2 separate regions of the Homo sapiens genome follow, and region 1 is linked to region 2. The links come from fine-mapping of genetic effects on gene expression. A gene starts in region 2. The other region holds a variant in brackets. All regions are shown on one strand. Distances are between the middles of the regions. Region 1 holds the start of CALML4 (calmodulin like 4). Region 2 holds the start of CLN6 (CLN6 transmembrane ER protein).

Region 1 (5,427 bases), 24 kb before region 2:
GTTTTGCCAACTTTTTTTTTTTTTTTTTTTGAGAGAGTTTTGCTCTTGTTGCCCAGGCTAGAGTGCAATGGCACAATTTCAGCTCACTGCAGCCTCCACCTCCCAGGTTCAAGTGATTCTCCTGCCTCAGCCTCCCAAGAAGCTGGGATTATAGGCATGTGCCACCATGACCGGCTTTTTTTTTTTTTTTTTTTTTTTTGAGACAGAGTCTCGCTCTTGTTGCCCAGGCTGGAGTGTAGTGGCTCAATCTCGGTTCACTGCAACCTCCGCCTCCTGGGTTCAAGTGATTCTCCTGCCTCAGCCTCCTGAGTAGCTGGAATTACAGGTGCCTGCCAGCACACCAGGCTAATTTTTGTACTTTTAGTAGAGATAGGGTTTCACCATGTTGGCCAGGCTGGTCTCAAACTCCTGACCTCAGGTGATCTGCCTCCCTCGGTCTCTCAAAGTGCTGGGATTACAGGCATGAGCCAACTGCACCTGGCCAGTTTTGTATTTTTAGTAGAGATGGGGTTTCACCATGTTGGCCAGGCTGGTTTCAAACCCCTGACATCAGGTGATCCACATGCCTCGGCCTCCCAAAGTGCTGGGATTACAGACGTGAGCCACTGCACTCAGCCCAAGTTTTGCCAACTCTTATATCCATTGCCAACCTATAGTTTCGATTCAACCATGATTTGACAAATGAAGCTGCGCGCCAATGAGTGCGATTCTTTTTCCAATGAATGAATGGTCATTAAACCTGATGTGATCTACTGTTAAACTATTTCTCACCCTTTTACCAAACACATTCATTAAATTGAAACTTCTTTCAAATCTCCATCTCCACTGATCACAATAGGGCTGTCTTTTTAACTTTTTGTACAGATAGATGTAGGGATTGAAACACTGTTTGATCCTACATTATTTAATAATGGCTGGCTTTAACATCCTGCTTGCAAAATTCCTAAAACTATGGCTCTTGCTAGCTGTAGTGAGCCAGCCCCAGCCCACATGTGGGTGACACCTGGCTATGCCTGGCCCAGCGTCCAGCATGTAACTGACATTATTCCCCTCTGTCCGTGGCTCGCAGCAGCCTGGTAAGGTGGCATATCCTACTTCATAGGTGAGAAAACCGAGGCTCAAGGGTGATTAGGCTTCAGGTCTGCTGCCTCCAAAGCCCCTGTTCTTCCCACTTCGCTAGGCCACCCCATCCAGTCTTTCACACACTCATTAAACACTGGTGGCCACTTTCTTGGTGTCAGATACTGGGATACAAAGACAATTTACCTTCTTCCCTTCTGGGAGCTTTGGCTATCCCAGGAGGGAGGGTCAGTGAGCCTCAAAACCAGGCATGGGTGGGAGGATGCTGAGGCTGAAGGCTGGACTCCAGCCCTCAGTCCACCATTCATTATCACCGTTAGACCTGGACAAGAGGGCACTGCCCCGGGCCCTGTGTTTTAAAAGTCCCTGCTCCTGCCCTGGCCCTCCTCTTGGGATAAAGAGTTCCAGGGTTCTACGTGGAGGTGCCCACCTGGAGCTCACAATTCCTGCCCCTCTGGACCAAGCTCAGAATACCCAGAACTCTGGAACTCCTGCCCAGGTAACCCTAACCCCACTTGGCTGGGCTCTCAGGACCCTACCCTGGATCACAAGGGCCCAAGGTGCCTGTAATTTTATCTCCAGTGGTCAGCGAAGGACTCACTGAGAAGGCGATGTTTCAGCAAAGACCTGGAGGAATGGGATGCCTCGGGGGACTCTCAGGCCCATTGACGTCCACTGTTGGGACAGGTTTCAGGGTCACAACCTCAAGCAGCAGCTGGCTGTGCCTCCTGGGCCTCTCCTGCCAGGTGCAGGGGGGCTGCAGCCATGAGGCTCCCCTGGCTCAGGTCTGGGCCCCCAAGTTCTTTGTAACGCAACTCTTTGCTCTTGGCCTTCTGGAAATAGAACCCTGCACGGTGTGAAACTGAAGCCTGGTCGAGGGCTGGCAGAGTAGGGGACCCAGGGAATAAAGTGCTCACGCCCAAACCAGGCTTGATGCCAGGGCAAAGGGGGCTCAGTGGACCCTCCATTTTACAGATAGGGAGACTGAGGCGCAGAGAGTAGACGCATCCTGCCAGAGAGTGCAGACCTGGCCTCTGTTCTGTCTCAATTACAAAGCCCCTCCTCTTTCCCTGCTGCCAGCCATACCTTTAATGGTCTCTCTCTCCATCCCCAGTCCCCTCAGTCCCCAAATCCAACTGGTCAGGTTCTGGAGGGAAACCTAGTAAGTTCTGTCTTAGCGCCCTGGCTTGTAAGTCACACTGACAAGTATAAAGCCACATGTCTATTTTGGAGGCTTACCCCCAACCCCCACCCCGCCAACAGCAGCCTCCCCGCAGCTCTTGGCCCTGGGTGGGCCCAGCTCTCCCACAGCCACCTTCCTTCCCACCAAGAAAACATGAGCAGAGCAAATTGCCTAATGAGACCCATATTTTGCTGAGTTGCTAATCAAAGAACAAACCCAACCTACCATTAATTTGGTCTTGGGAAAGAAACTTGGCCTGCAGCAGAGAAAGGAAAACAGTCAGGGGAGGGCTCCACCTGAGGTTCACGCCCCCAGCCCTGGCCAGGCCGACACAGACCCTCACACTCACCATTCTGGGGCCTCGGCTGCTACCCGTGGGCTTGCTGCTCCCAGAACCGCGTTCAGTTCCCTTTCCTCCAGCCTCAAGTCTAAAGTCTGCCAAGCTGGGTGGAGGCCCGGGTAATAAATGCTCGGCTGCCATGGAGACTGGGCCCGACGCCACCAGGGTCAGATTCCAGCTTCCTGAGCACAGCTCATGACCCGCCACCTGGGCAGGTTGGATTTTTGAGGAAATGGGGCTGCAGAAGGCTCTCCCTGGGCTCAGAGTCTCTGCCTCCAGAAGCCGAAGCAAAGGGACAAATGCCAGTGTTTCTTCCCGGGAGCCCTGGACTCCAGGAAGGGGTCTTCTCTCTCTCTCCTGGGACTCGGCGGGGATGCCATCAGGCCCCTACTAGAGTTGGACACTTTACACCCCGGGTCGTATTGAAGGCTCCTCACACACCATCTTGTAGGAGGAAGGGAACCCTTCCAAGACGGCCTAACTCAGAGATGGGCACCGGGGCTCGCAGGCTTGGGGCTCGGTATTGCAGGGATACAAGCTTCGGTGCTCTCAGGCTGGGATTCAGTCCTCCCCGTCTGCTGACTTGCTGAGTGACTGGCGAATCATTCTACCTCAGTCTGTGCCTCAGTTTCCTCACCAGCTGAATTACAGGGCAGCTGGCAAAATCAAGTGGCCAGCGCACAGCCGGTTCCCATCCTGTGCCAGTTCAGTTCCCACCTTCTGAGGACTTTAAGGGTGGTGGAGGGGCCTGAGCCGGGTCTCCAGCCCCACCACAGGCTCCTCGGGGGCTTGGAGTGAGGCCTCTTAGTGCCGGTTACCCTGGCCAGGAAGGCTCCCCTTTTCTTCCTTCCCTTCCTCTCTCCACCCTCAGCCCCACCCCTTCCGCAGAAGCTGCTGACGCTCCCAA[G/A]TCTTCAGGAGTTCGTGCTGCTCCCCTCCCCCACATAGGAGGAAATGGGGGCAGGGTGTGAGGCCTCCCCAGCTTCTTCCCCTTGAGATCCCATTTCCCTGTTTGGGGCGTGAGGCTTTTGTCCACAGCTGAGTCTATGAGGCTCTACAAGTAGGTGTGGCTGCACAGGTGTGCCCTACACAAAGGCCCCCAGCCCAGGTGCGAGTGGTTGCTGGCCAGGGGCTGCACTGCCAATAGGAAGGGGGGCATTGTGCCACTTTGCACACAGGCGCATAGACGGGAGGCGCTGCCTGTGCCCCACTCTCCCCTCCCCGCTCCTTTCCTGACCGCCTCTGTGTGGAAAGTGTGCTTTTCTCCCAAATCACATCCCCAGAATCGCTTTACACCTGTTTCTAGACCCAGAGAATTTTAGCTGGGGACTCCGACTCCTCCCTGTCAGAGTTTGAGGCTCCCCCTCCCAAACCCCATGGCAGGGATAAGAGGAGGGAAGGCTGCCTCTGTGCAGAGGATGGAGAGAAGGACATCAAGGAAAGTCACTTGGGACTCTGGAAGCCTGAAGGCGGCCAGGCCAACATGCTCCCTCTGAATCCCCTTGCCTGTGGGAAGGGGCTCCAGAAGAGATGAGGTGCCTCCTTGGAGTTAGGCCAGTGTGTGCTGGGGTGCCCCGGCCAACTCCCTCCTTATGTGTGTAGGTGTCTCCGGGGGTGACGCACAGATGGAAAACACCAGCGTGGGGCAATGGCTGCGTGAGGGTTCACGATACAGCAACTCACCATGCTGTAGGGCGCACCGTGTGTGCTACACCTCAGCACGAAAGGGAGAAAAGACAAAAAACACCTCTAACACCACTTGGGGCTGTGACTGTATTTACTTCATTCTTGAATCCCGCGTCCCCGTGGCTGGGGGCTGACACATCCCTGGGCACCACTGTGACTTCCTGTGGGTCCCTTCCCTTCTGTCCCTGACTCTGTAGACCCCCCACAGGAAGGGTCCTAGGTAGGGGGAGGTTCCTCCTCCCTTGAAACCCTGGGCCACTCTGTCAAGGCAAAGCCTCTGGGCCCAGCACCTTGTAAAGGCTTTGATGAGAGGAGCTCTGGCTTTTGCTCAGGGCCTTTGGCACCCCACCCTCCAGCCCCCAGGAATGCAGGCGCTCAAAGCCTGTGGCTAGGCTGCCCGAAGCGCGTGCCGCAGTTCTTCTGGAGTGGGAGCAGGGGGACAGAGCTTTGGGTAGAGGAGGGTCACCTGCAAAGCTGGAATGCCAGGGGAGTGGGCGGTGCCTCCAGCTCCTGGGGGCCAGGGTGTCTCCATACCTCATGGGCCTGAGCCTGGGCAGGGGTCTGGAGTGCACATAGCCCCCAGGCAGGGAGAGGGCAGTGACAGGACAGAGCCACTCATCTGTCCCAAAGCTGCACCCAAGGGGTGTCAGCAACCCCAACCTACTGACCTACTTTGGGACCACAGGCCCATCTAGTGCAAATGAGGCCCAGAAAGGAGAAATGCTTTGCTCAACAGCCACAGTAGGCTGACGTAACCTATGTAATGTAGGGTCAGGGTGGGCCTGAGGGATGAGCCAGGTGGTGGGCAGGTGACACACCAGGTCCCCTCCTGGCCTCTGCCCCACCCAGCCCTCTCCTGCACGGCTACCAGAAGATGTCCGGGAAGAACAGACTAGCCCTGAGTAGGGAGTGTGGTCAGGTGCAGAGGAGGGCAGGGGCCCGGATCCTGGCCCAGAAACACTCTAAAACAGAATCCGATCCTGAGATGATCCAAATCAAACAGAAACTTGACGGAAATAGTAGAGTCTGAAAATGATGCACTCTGCGCACACATATACAAGACACACACACACACACACACGAATCCACGCACACGAGGCACACCCCACTCATGCTCTCGGTCTCTGGTTACACACCCACA
Region 2 (5,000 bases):
CACACCTGGATAATTTTTGTATTTTTTAGTAGAGACGGGGATTCTCCATGTTGGCCAGGCTGGTCTCGAACTCCTGGACTCAAGTGATCCACCCACCTTGGCCTCCCAAAGTGCTGGGATTACAGGCGTGAGCCATGGCACCCGGCCTAATTGTAACACTTTCATTATAATACAAAAACTGGCAACAAAGCAGGTGGACGTTGGAATGGGTTACCTTAAGAGGTAGTGAGCAAAGCACGGATGCAGCAGAGGAAATCCAAGCATCCTAGGAACTGGACAGGATGATTCTGCCTACTCTCTTGAGCAGCAATGATACTGGGAATGGGCTGAAGCCACATTGTGGGGGGCAGAGACACCCTGGGAGACAGAGAGCTCCCACCCTCACACCACCCCCCTGGGAATACCCTGGCTGGTGGGGAGCTCACACAGGGGAAGAGGGACATGACTCCTTAGCAGCCAAAGTGGAGTCGTAAGAGCAGAGCCCGTAAGTCAGAAACCCTGGGTTTAGGCCCTGGTTCTTGCCAGCAAATGATGTAACCTCTTTGGGCCTCCATTTCCCCATCTGTACATTGGAAGTGACATCTGGCAGCTCATTGTCAAGACTGAGTAAGATGCTAGACATGGGAGCCCCACACAGGAGATAAAGTGGTGACCCTATCTGAGACCCACAGGCTGTTCCCATTGGGCTGTCACAGTTCAGGGCAGTCAGTGACCCCCAACTTGGCAAGGATTCGGAACAGAGACATCCCGCAGGCAGAAGAGGCTGCCTGGAAGAGGGGAGCTGGTAAATGGGTTGGGTCACAGCAGAGATGAAACCACTGGACACGGCGTGGGGCAGACAGCCCGGGGACTCAGCCAGTCAGGCTCCTCAGCCCATCTAAGCCTATTTCCTCATCAGTAAAATAATACTTAACTCACAGGCCGAGGGAGACAGGTGAGCTACAGTATGCGGTCTATGGCCAGTACATTGTTTCTAAGTGAAAACGGACACAGTCCGCAGCTGCTCAGCCCGCATGTCCGCAGCAGCAGAAACGAGCCATCCCTCACCTCAGCCCAAGCGCTCAGACTTCTCCCTTCATCCAGGTCGTACCAAAAACTTCCTAACAAGGACTTTGCGCATGCTAGTGCTCAGAAACTTCTCACGACTCCCCAGTGCCTATGGGATAAAGACTGTGTCCTTAACCTGTCACCTAGGACAGGAACTAGGGTGAGACAAGCAAGGCCTCCAAGGCCCAACATTTGAGGCGGCACTCACGGTCACGGCAGTGCGCCTACCCCTAAGTTTTGCAATCTAGGTCCTCAACTCGAGTCCTAGACTTGCTGCAATTAAAGGCCCTTCACAATCAGTCTGCATCCTCCTGTCACTTTCTTTTACAGCCGGAAAGCTCCAGCACCACTAAACTCCTTGCCCTTCCCCACTGTTTCCCTGGATGGAACAGCCTGTCTTCCCTGGGTCCCCTACCAAGTCCTCTGAGACTCAGCTCAAGTGCCACTTCCTCCATGAAGCCCTCCAAGATGACCGCTCACTCCCACTTGGGCTCTGTCTCTCCTGATCCCTACAGGACCGTAAGCCTCTCCCACCTTCACCCTGCCTACCCCCTTACTGCCTGGCACAGCGCTGGGCATACCACAGGCGCTTAAAGAATGCCTGCTGAATGCAGTGAATGTTTCTGGTCAGTAAAACGGGACGAAGGTAGAATGGAGCTCTGCTCGCCCAACGAGATAAACCAAAAACTGAGAAGGGCTCCTCATTCATTCTCTGGACGGCAGCTTCCGCCCTTCCCCGCTGTCTCTTCCATTACATTCGCACATTCTTGGGTGCCCCAGGTCAAGCAGACAGCCTCCTGATAAATGACAGAATCAAGTCCTACTCAGGGCTGGAGGGACCCCGAGAACGCGGAGGTGGCGCCCGGAACTTGCGGATAAGTTGGGGGTCCGAGTGACGAGGTGTGTGTACCCACCGCCCTGGGGAGCTCTCCCAGCGCAGCGGCTGTCCCGGCGCCAGCCCGGGTCGCTGGAACGCGGGAAGGGAGGAAAACCCCAAACTTCGGGCGGGCGCTCCTCCCACCCGAGCAACGGCGAAGCGGGGAGGCCGAGCCCCGCTGGGCCCCAGGCTCCCCAGACAGAGAAGGAAACGCGGGGGCACCGCCGCCACGGTAGCGCGCCTCCAAGCCCCCCGCGCTCCGCTCCGCCCCGGCCAGCGCCGCACACGAGGTTCCCGCCCGGCAGCCCTAGGAGCGTCACGTGGCGGGTCCCGAGGCCCCAGCGCACAGGCGCCTAGCCCGCCCTCTCACCCCGGCGCGCGCCCACCTGGCCTGCAGGAAGGAGGCGCCCAGCTGCGCGCCTGGGCCGCCCGTCGCTCCCAGGTGCTGCCGCCTCCGCGTCGCCTCCATGGCTGCCCCGCAGGCCCCTCGGCCCTGCCTTTCCGAGGAAGAGACCGGTTCAGCTCGGCTGCCCCGGCGGAGGCCGCCGCAAATTCCCAGCGCGGGGCGGTTCGGGGCGGGCCGGCGAGAGCGCGCGGCCCTCGGGAGGAACAGGCGGGGCTGCGGACCCGGGGCGGGGCGGAGCGGAGCGGAGCGGAGCGGAGGGAGGCGGGGCGGAGGGAGACGGGGCGGGCTCCGCTAGGGGAGGGCCGGGCGCTGCGAGTGTGGCGTCCTCGCGGGGCGGGGGCTGCTGGCCTGTCCGGGCTGCGCGCGTGACCACCAGCGGGCTGGGATGTGTTAGGGTCCCTTGCCTGCCTGGGTACGGGAATCTCTGTCTAGGGTGACTGAGGCCTGGGTGTTGGGCTGGGGCGGGGTAGCGACCTGGAGATAGACTAAGCTGATTTAAATGCTCCCCGGGGCAGAGGGTTCTGTGGGATTTCCCTTGTTCTTACGGGTGGAGGAGAGGAGGCAGGACTGGAGACCTGCACGTGTAGCACCCGCGTGGTGCAGCACGTGGGTTGCAGATGTTCTAGTGAGGGGCTGGCGGTGACAGTGGGAAGGAGCGAGTTGGTGACATCTAGAGTCGTGTGAGAGGTATGGTGACTGGGACTCTGGATGTGGGGGGTGAGGGGAGAAGAGTTCAGGCAGTGGCCGGATTCTGCCCCTGGGTGGATAGTGGAGGCACCCCCCGGGAAGTGGGCTAGAGCAGATTTCGTGTAAATAAAGATTCATCTTTGAACGCATTAAGCTTGAGGTGGGTCAGGAAGGCTGTTGGACCGGTGGTCTGAAGCTGAGGCGAGACCTGGGAACCCAGTGGACAGGCTCGTGAGTCACCGGAGCATACAAGACAGACAGAACCTAAGGGGACAGCATCCTCAAGTGAAAAACAGAACCAAAGGTCAAACCTGAGAACAGCCTGCAGGGCAGATTGCCAGGACTTCATTAGTGGTACCACTTTGAACTAGCTGTGATGCGGGCAAATGGCTCAACCCCTCACAGCTTCAGTTTACTCATCTGTAACAAGAAGATGCCTATTGCATCTACTACATTGGAGTTGTGATGACTATATGAAACTCTTAGCAGAGAGCCCAGCACTGGTGGACTAAGTTATTTACAATAGCCCGTCTCGAGACCTGAGGTTTCCCTCCACAGAAAGGTTACCTTCCACACCACTGTCAATGTCACAAACTCTCTCCTCCCCACGGTCACTGTCAGCAGCCCAGGCCGCTAACTAGAACAACTGCAACCAACTCCCATTCTCCCCACCACCCCCGTGCTACACCAGGCGCACACGACATGTGCAGGTCTCCAGTCCTGTCTCCTCTCACCCAGCCCTCAAGCCGCTGCAGAAGGGATGTGCCTCTTGGAAGGGATGTGCCTCAGATGCAAATGCAATGTGCCATTCCCCTGCCCAGTATCCTTGGTCTGCTTCCCAGACCATGAGGGGTCTGAGCTATGCCTATTTCCATTCTATTTTCTTTCCTGTCTTTCTTCTTGGGAGATGTTTATTGGATTTATTTCTTTCCCCTTTGGTCAGAACCTGCATGTCCTTTCTTGGCTGTGGGAGGCTAGGACTGCCTGCCTGGGAGTCATTTTCCATCAGCCCCATCCTGGGCTCTAGCAGCCCACAGGCCACACCTCAATCCCCCCCCTCCGCCCCTGGTCCCCTGAAGAACACATTTGCTTTAAAGCTTTCCTTGTTTCATTTGATCCACACACACCAGGTCGTAAGGAGAACAGGTGATTGTCTCTGTTTTGTAGCAGAGAAAAACCTAGGCCCTGAGCTGAAGTACTGTGCCCAAGGGTCAGCCAAGGACAGCACTCAGACGGGGCCCCAGATTTAATTCTGGTGAATCTGATCTACACATCGATCTCGGTATACACCAGAGAAGAAGGATTGAGGCTTCCCGCTCTGACCCCAATTTCTTATCCTCTGCAGGCTTTGCAAGCCTGCTGGGCTCCAGAGGGAGGGGCATGCAGTGCCCATGATGTCATCATCGATTTAATAACACTCAGAGGTGGGCTTCCAGCCATCAGAGGATGAGGCCGTGTGGAGGGAGCCTCTCTAGCTCATTTAATCCTCCAATCTCTTAAATACAAACACATCTGCCTTTTTTCTGGAGTCCGCTGCTACCCCTTGAGGGGAGGGGAGTCCAACCTGGCAGGGGGCTGGGCCTTTCTGAATGAACAAGATGAGAATTCTCCCTGTCCGGTGGGATTATCAGCCCCCTCTCTTTCCCATCCCACCAGGACACTTTAAAAACACCATCTTCATTAGCTCTTTAAATTGCATGGAAATTTGGGGGAGGAGGATAGAGTAAAGCTGAGGGGTACACATTTGCAGGATCTTGTTTGTGATTATCTGAGAACATGGGCCCTGCACATCAGAAGGGAGTCTAGTCTCAGCTCTCTGAGCTGCAATTTCAGTGGCCAGCATCAAGAAATCTTTCAGCTGAGAAGGTCCTTTGGTATTATGCATCTTGGTGGTTTTGACTTTTCTTTTAGTAGAGGTTCCCACTACTTTTCAATTATAGCTGTATCCGATATTTTTTTTTTTTTTTGAGACGGAGTCTTGCT

Evidence for each region.
Region 1: its variant is fine-mapped to the expression of CLN6 in whole blood (INTERVAL, PIP above 0.99).

What each region holds. Positions count from the first base shown.
Region 1 is chr15:68,202,633-68,208,059 of GRCh38, forward strand. It overlaps CALML4 (calmodulin like 4), which reads right to left and starts at 2,700. Exons shown (of 5, transcript NM_033429.3): 1 at 2,613-2,700; 2 at 2,489-2,519. The coding sequence starts at 2,615. It overlaps CLN6 (CLN6 transmembrane ER protein), which reads right to left. Exons shown (of 7, transcript NM_017882.3): 7 at 4,360-5,427. RefSeq lists an enhancer at 3,399-3,693. The variant G/A (reference allele first, on the strand shown) is at 3,511.
Region 2 is chr15:68,227,192-68,232,191 of GRCh38, forward strand. CLN6 (CLN6 transmembrane ER protein) reads right to left here and starts at 2,537. Exons shown (of 7, transcript NM_017882.3): 1 at 2,311-2,537. The coding sequence starts at 2,393. RefSeq lists enhancers at 1,822-1,891, 1,922-2,001, 3,232-3,281 and silencers at 2,042-2,631, 2,401-2,580.